Regions from separate parts of the Homo sapiens genome. Here all the other regions are linked to region 2. Evidence: fine-mapped expression QTL. A gene starts in region 2. Each other region holds a variant in brackets. All regions are shown on one strand. Distances are between the middles of the regions. Region 1 has its middle 37 kb from the start of LINC02518. Region 2 holds the start of MARCKS (myristoylated alanine rich protein kinase C substrate). Region 3 has its middle 13 kb from the start of LINC02518.

The links.
Region 1: its variant is fine-mapped to the expression of MARCKS in whole blood (TOPMed, PIP 0.91).
Region 3: its variant is fine-mapped to the expression of MARCKS in whole blood (INTERVAL, PIP 0.98).

The regions. Positions count from the first base shown.
Region 1 is chr6:113,468,819-113,471,586 of GRCh38, forward strand. No RefSeq gene overlaps it. Among named protein-coding and RNA genes, the nearest start is that of LINC02518, 37 kb to the left of the region's middle. The variant A/T (reference allele first, on the strand shown) is at 1,371.
Region 2 is chr6:113,855,728-113,858,495 of GRCh38, forward strand. MARCKS (myristoylated alanine rich protein kinase C substrate) reads left to right here and starts at 1,618. Exons shown (of 2, transcript NM_002356.7): 1 at 1,618-2,120. The coding sequence starts at 2,019. RefSeq lists enhancers at 373-432, 453-502, 773-1,318, 1,319-1,862, 1,650-1,699.
Region 3 is chr6:113,444,705-113,447,472 of GRCh38, forward strand. No RefSeq gene overlaps it. Among named protein-coding and RNA genes, the nearest start is that of LINC02518, 13 kb to the left of the region's middle. The variant C/CA (reference allele first, on the strand shown) is at 1,283.

The DNA of each region.
Region 1 (2,768 bases), 390 kb before region 2:
AAAAAGTGGGCGAAAGATATGAACAGACACTTCTCAAAAGAAGACATTTATGTAGCCAACAGACACATGAAAAAATGCTCATCATCACTGGCCATCAGAGAAATGCAAATCAAAACCACAATGAGATACCATCTCACAACAGTTAGAATGGTGATCATTAAAAAGTCAGCAAACAACAGGTACTGGAGAGGATGTGGAGAAATAGGAACACTTTTACACTGTTGGTTGGATGGTAAACTAGTTCAACCATTGTGGAAGACAGTGTGACGATTCCTCAAAGATCTAGAACTAGAAGTACCATTTGACCTAGCCATCCTATTGCTGGGTATATACCCAAAGGATTATAAATCATGCTACTATAAAGACACATGCACACGCATGTTTATTGCAGCACTGTTCACAATAGCAAAGACTTGGAACCAACCCAAATGTCCATCAGTGATAGACTGGATTAAGAAAATGTGACACATATACACCATGGAATACTATGCAGCCATAAAAAAGGATGAGTTCATGTCCTTTGCAGGGACATGGATAAAGCTGGAAACCATCATTCTCAGCAAACTATCACAAGGACAGAAAACCAAACACTGCATGTTGTCACTCATAGGTGGGAATTGAATAATGAGAACACTTGGACGCAGGAAGGGGAACATCACACACTGGGGCCTGTTGTGGGGTTGGGGGAGCAGGGAGGGATAGCATTAGGAGATATACCTAATGTAAATGGAGTTAATGGGTGCAGCACACCAACATGGCACATGTATACATATGTAACAAACCTGCATATTGTGCATATGTACCCTAGAACTTAAAGTATAATTTTTTTAAAAAAGTAAAATGTAAATAAGTAAATAAAAATAAATATATCTGTGAGGCCAGGCATGGTGGCTCACACATGTAATCCCAGCACTTTGGGAAGATGAGGCAGGTGGATCACTTGAGGTCAGGAGTTTGAGACCACCCTGGACAACATAGCAAAACCCAATCTCTAGAAAAAATACAAAAATTAGCCAGGCATGGTGGTGCACAACTGTAATCCCAGCTACTCAGAAGGCTGAAGTAGGAGAATAGCTTGAACCAGGAGGCGGAGGTTGCAGTGAGCCGAGATCATGCCACTGCACTCCAGCCTGGGCATCTGTCTCAAAATACATATGAGAATAAAGTTTTTCTGTACTTTATGAGGGCTCTTATTTCTTACATTTAGGGACCAAATTAAAATGAAACACATTAGAGTATCTACCACTTACATTTTGTTTCAATTTCAATTGTTTTAATTTGCACAGAACTTCATGCCAAAACTTATCCAAGAAAATATTAGGGTTTCAGATATTGCTTTACATGATTTCTATCAAACAATATTTAGATGA[A/T]CAAAATACTGTTTTGCATGTCCTAGTCCCTGGAGAGCCATGAGTAACCCCTTGTATTCAGGAGAGAGAACCATGGAAACAATTCTGCCTACAAGAATGCAACGTGTTATTTTTCTGACAATTCATATTCTGATCAAACCAGCAATTAAACTATCTAAGCACTACAGAGATAAAATCAGATTAAAATCAAATTATGGCACCTGGTCAACTACTTCTCCAAATAAAAACAAGAAGAGACTCAATATTCCCTTTTTAAAGATGCCAGATGCTTCAACTCTTAAGATAAATATAAACAGCATTTAACAAGTTCTAGCTCATAGAGGCAGTGCCTTCTCTAGTGTATCCTACAGCCCTCACAACAAACTTTCTTTAGCCTATGTATTTCTTTCTTGCTTTATTTTTTCAAGTGTGTGCATGTGTATGTGCACGCACACACATAAGTGTTTTGAAGTTTATCCCTGTATGAAATCACAGCCTATTATTATAGTAAAATATCCTAAGCTACAAGAGGACAGGGGTAATGTCTTTTTTATGCACCTCAAATCCCCAGTGCTTGGCACAAAGCAGATGCTGAGTATTTTTTAATAAATTAGTGAATTAATAAACTATTGCCAGGATTTTTACTCTCACATTCTCTTTCACTCTGTATAAAAATTGCTTTTGTCAAGGCTACCCATAACCTCCATTGCTAAATACAGCTGTCAATTCTCAGTCCTTATCATATTTGACTCATCCACTGATTTGACAAGGTTAATCACTGACTCTTGTTTGATGGTCTACTTCTTACCTCATTGTTCACTCTTTTCAAGCTCTTTTGCTGGTTCCTTTTCTCCCTGAGTTTCGAATGTCAGGGGTCCTCAGGATTTGAGTGGTGGAGTTCTTTTTTCTTCAATGATTTCACTCACTCTCATGGCTTTAAATGACATCACTAACTTCAAAGGTATACCTGCAGCCTAACATCACTCCTGAATTCTAGACTATCCAGTACTTACTGACATCCCTACTTGGATATCCAACAGTCATCTCAAACTTAACACTTCCAAACTTGAATTCCTACCTTCTCCCCATGCACAACCCCCCTTCTGGTCCAAAGACATTCCATTTGCACTTCTCTCCATATCACTTGGTGGTTTCCAATCCTCTAGATGCTCAGGTAGTTGCTATTCCTACCACCAGCACAACTGGAGGTACCACCAGATGCAAGACAAATGGCTTCTCCCTTTCTTGAATTTATATTGTTCCATCACGTTTTTCCATTGGCAGATCCTATCTGGAAACCAGTTGGCAAAAGAATCTGGGCATAGTAGTTTGCAAGCTTCCAGCTCCTTGGTAAAGAGGAGAGTTTAGAATGGGTGAGTGGAGCCAAACACCTGCAGCCATTATCTGCTGTAACCTTCT
Region 2 (2,768 bases):
CTGGGGAATATGACCATGGTCGAATAATGCATCTGAAGGAACTGGACAGTGAGAAGACGAAGCTTCACGTAACAATGTTCAGCTTGGTGATTTTTAAAGCAACGCTTGAACAAAGAGTTACTGGCTTGAACCAACCGTCTTTTTCACTCAGAGTGTGACCTATTTCCCTACAATGAGCAGAAAATAAAACTGTTTGAGAATTCAGAGCCAGCACCAGGAGAAATGAACCATTCCCTCGACTGCTTCTCACCTTCATAAGCGAAAGATTATTCCTTGCAAGATCACCAAATGTAAACGAGAAAAGGTGGTCTGATTTTGCCACGAGTGAAAACTTTGGGAAGAAAATGCTTATTAAGCTGTTTCCTTGGTTCCCCTCACCCCTCATACTTTAAGTCAGTGCCTTGTCTCTCACGCACAAAAAGCGTCTGGTACTTCGGTGGCAAGGAGTGCAGTGACAGATGGAGGTATCCTGTGTACCATTATAGAAGGTTTTCCTCTAACCCAAGTTAGACTTGGAGAGCTCAGGGATCTTGCTATCTCTCAACATACAGAACATTTCTCCTTAGAACTGCAATCCGGTTTAGAATGTCATCGTTGCTGCTGCCTCCCTTCCTTTCAGGAGCACATTCGCCTGCGTGCGCACTCACACACACGTTCAAAAAGAGTCCATTCGATTCTGGCAGTAGGCTGAAAACGATCCATATTGACGCGAATAACATCCCAACTGTAAATATGGATTCGTCTACTCGAGGCTGTGTCTCATTTCACCATAGAGGAAAATTATGTCATTTAAAACAGTGATAAAACGCGAAGAGTTTCGATCTTCTGTAAATGGCTCTCACTTTGAATTGTGGGGGAAAAAAATCACTAATTGGGAATAGCCAGAGAAGGGGGAATTTGTTGAGCGCCCAAGGCCAATCTCAAAATATTTTATTTCATGCCAATGTGGGAGAGGGAAGGGAGTGTGGCTTCGCTGTTTGCCGCTTTTGCATTTTCCACATCTGGCCTACAGACCTAATTCTAACTTGCGATCTCGCTTGATGAAATTCGATCTTCGTGGTTTAAATACCTTTCAATTTGGGACGATTTAACCATTGCAGCAGTTCAAAAAACAAACCCTGAGCATTATCTGTAAAACCAATATGGAAAAAAGAAAGAAAACATGCTGCAAACACACAAATCGCAACCATTGTCTTTAACACTCGCATACACACACATACACATAAACACACGGAAAGATGGGGGAGGGGAGCGAGTGGAGAGAGAGAGACACACGGATATAGACCGACGAGAGTCAATGCGAGTCAAGTTAACGCTTTCTCCGCCCCGATGCACAAGTACCCCCCTCCCGTGTTAATTAATTCCAAACAAAGCAAGCCAATCAAGAAATGCATTATTATTTTCAAGCAGAGAGAGACGAGTGCCATGTATTTTTTAATTGATTTATTTATTTGGAGGACATTAATTCTCGGTCTGAGGCTGATTTTCAAACCGTTTGCAAAGCGCGGCTCCATTGTTCGCCAGGCGCGCAGACCCCGCCCCCTGCTTTGTGTGCGGCGCGCGGATTGGCCGACGCGCGCGGGGGCCGCGTCAGCGCCCGCGAGCCCATTCATCTGTGCACTTGGGCGTTGGACCCCGCATCTTATTAGCAACCAGGGAGATTTCTCCATTTTCCTCTTGTCTACAGTGCGGCTACAAATCTGGGATTTTTTTATTACTTCTTTTTTTTTCGAACTACACTTGGGCTCCTTTTTTTGTGCTCGACTTTTCCACCCTTTTTCCCTCCCTCCTGTGCTGCTGCTTTTTGATCTCTTCGACTAAAATTTTTTTATCCGGAGTGTATTTAATCGGTTCTGTTCTGTCCTCTCCACCACCCCCACCCCCCTCCCTCCGGTGTGTGTGCCGCTGCCGCTGTTGCCGCCGCCGCTGCTGCTGCTGCTCGCCCCGTCGTTACACCAACCCGAGGCTCTTTGTTTCCCCTCTTGGATCTGTTGAGTTTCTTTGTTGAAGAAGCCAGCATGGGTGCCCAGTTCTCCAAGACCGCAGCGAAGGGAGAAGCCGCCGCGGAGAGGCCTGGGGAGGCGGCTGTGGCCTCGTCGCCTTCCAAAGCGAACGGACAGGTAAATTCTACCTGTGGTTGTGGTCATTTATTTCGTGTCTTTCTCTCCTTCCCTCCTGGTGGCTCCCAAGGCTCATTCGTGGAGAGGAGTGTGGCTGGATTCTAGTCTGAAAGTTGAATGGAAATGGATAGCCTAAATTGTGGATTTTTCATAGCCGGGGTCCCCCCACACCAAAGGAGTGGTTCCTTAGAATCCTGGAGAATTCTTGAGTAGACGGGAGGAAAGGAGTGATAAATCGTCTAAAATGGCGTGGTTTGGAGATTGGCAGAACGTGACTAGCTAGGTGCCCTCCTTCCCCCGCCCCCAGCCAGGTTTCATTTGTGTTTGGGGGCACAATGGTGTTTGGGTGTCTCTCGGGTTTGTTGTCGAAGCTGGATTGTCTTCGAGATTTCTGAACTGGTGGTGTGATTGTGTGTGGCGGGGGGGGGAGTCGGGAAAGGGGGGCGCAATGGGGATGGTGGTGGAGAAAGGCGAGGAGGGAAAGGCTGTCTTATTGTATGCCGCGGCGGCGTGCCCTGGGTTCTTGGAAAGGTGGCTGGCTGGGGCCAGACAGAGGGCTTCGGTACCTTTTGATGAGGCTTTCCCACTGTCCTAAATCTTTATTCGTAGCTGTCTGTGGAATTACACATCCATTTGATTTTTAAATGG
Region 3 (2,768 bases), 410 kb before region 2:
CATTACAGGTGAGAGCAACCGCGCCCAGCCTTCTTCTAGGGTTTTTATAGTTTTGGGTTTTGTATTTAAGTCTTTAATCCATCTTGAGTTAATTTTTATATAAGGTGTAAGGAAGGGGTTGAAAATCAGATGGTTGTAGATGTGCAGTCTTATTTCTGAGTTCTCTATTCTGTTTTATTGGTCTATATGTCTGTTTTTGTGCCAGTACCATGCTGTTTCGGTTATTGTAGCCTTGTTGTAGTTTGAAGTCTGGCAGTGTTATGCCTTCAGCTTCTTACTTTTTGCTTAGGATTGTCTTGGCTATAAGAGTTCTTTTTTGGTACCATATGAATTTTAAAATAGTTTCTTCTAAATCTGTGAAGAATGTCAATGGTCGTTTAATGGGAATAGCATTGAATTTATAAATTACTTTCGGCAGTATGGCTATTTTCACGATATTAATTCTTCTTATCCATGAGCATGGAATGTTCATCTGACAAAGGTCCAATATCCAGAATCTACAAGGAACTTAAAGAAATTTACAAAAAAAAAAAGCCATTAAAAAGTGGGCAAAGGACATAAACAGATATTGCTCAAAAGAAGACATTCATGCAGCCAAGAAACATGAAAAAATGCTCAACATCGCTAATTAGAGAAATGCATATCAAAACCACAATGAGATACCATCTCATGCCAGTCAAAAAGTCAATTATAAAAAAGTCAAAAAATAACAGATGCTGGCGAGGTTGCGGGGAAATAGGAATGCTTTTACACTGTTGGTATGAATATAAATTAGTTCAACCATTGTGGAAGATGATGTGGCAATTCCTCAAAGATCTAGAACCAGAAATACTATTTGATCCACATCCCATTACTGAGCATATACCTAAAGGAGTATAAATCATTCTATTACAAAGATACATGCACGTGTTTGCTCAGTGCAGCACTATTCACAATAGCAAAGAAATGGAATCAACCCAAATGCCTATCAACTGTAGACTGGATAAAGAAAATGTGGTACAGGCTGGGTGCAGTGGCTCATACCTGTAATCCCAACACTTTGAGAGGCCAAGATGGGTAGATCACCTGAGGTCAGGAGTTCAAGGCCAGCCTGGCCAACATGGTGAAACCCCGTCTCTACTAAAAATACAAAAATTAGCCAGGTGCAGTAGCACATGCCTGTAATCCCAGCTACTCAGGGGGCTGAGGTAGGAGAATCACTTGAACCTGGGAGGTGGAGGTTGCAGTGAGCCAAGATCATGCCATTGCACTCCAGCCTGGATGACAGAGTAAGACTCCATCT[C/CA]AAAAAAAAAAAAAAAGAAAAAGAAAAAAAAGAAAAGAAAAGAAAAGAAAAGAAAAAAAGAAAATGTGGTACATATACACCATGGAATACTATGCAGCCATAAAAAGGATCGAGATCATGTCCTTTCCAGGGACATGGATGGAGCTGGAAGCTGTTATCCTCAGCAAATTAATGCAGGAACAAAAAACTAAACACCACATGTTCTCACATATAAGCTGGAGCAGAACAATGAGAACACATGGACACAGGGAGGGGGACAACACACATTGGGGCCTGTTGGGGGGTAGGGTCAGGGGAGGGAAAGTATCAGGAAATAGCTAATGCATGCTGGGCTTAATACCTAGATGATGTCTTGACAGGTACAGCAAAACGCCATTACACACATCTACCTATGTAATGAACCTGCATATCCTGAACATGTACCCTGGAACTTAAAATACAAATTAAAATTAATTATAAAATAAATAAAACTTTAAAAATTTAAATGCACACTTACTATATGACATAGCAATACCTAGGAATATGTGTAAGAAAAATAAAAACCTGTCACAGAGACATGTAGGTAAATATTCACAGCAGCATTATTCATAATAGCCAAAAACTGGAAATAATTCAAATGTCCATCAATTGGGAAATGGACTTTTTTAAGTGCCATATCCATACAATGGAAGGTTATTCAGCAATAAAAATGATAGCACTACCATACATGCTACAGTGTAAATTAACCTCAAAGAAGAAGTCAGGTGCAAAAAGCATAATTACTCTGTAATTCATTTATATAAAATGTTCAGAAAAAGCAAATTTATAAAAAGAAGAGAAATCAGTATTAGCCTAGAGGTGAATGTGGAAGCAGTGATTAACTATAAATGAGTACAAGAAAACTTTAGAGGTAATGGAGATGTCCTAAAACTGGAATGTGATGATGATAGCTCTGCTGTATAAATTTATTACAAATTATTGAATTGTATACTTATAATAGGTAGACTTTAAGATACATAAATTATACTTCCATAAAGCTGTTAATAACAAAAAACTACATTACATTGGAAGGTATCTGGACATAAACTACTTGATAAGCAAGAAGTCTACTGATTTTAAAGACATCCCCAGAATTTTAAAATTCTGGCCGAATTTTTGGTTTCTCTTTATGTAGTCCCAATCAAGGTAATGGAGAGTTAACTTAGTTTCCCCTATTATGAACCCATCTTAAATGTGGAAGGGAAGAAAAAGAGTGAGTCAGCTCTCACATGACCCAAACTTGTTGCTTCGTCTCTAAAAGTGAGTCATGAAGGCAACTTTTTCCTTGCCTATGAACGTGTTTGAGGAAAAACTATGTGCTTGGTTTAGCATCATTGACCACAATAATTATAGTGCATGAGAATTTATGTTGTATATAAGACTGCTAGATTGGTGGTGGGGGTTTAAGGGACTCAATGCCTGAGGTCTAAGTCTTTAATCCACAAAAAAAAATGCACTTTTTTTTAAT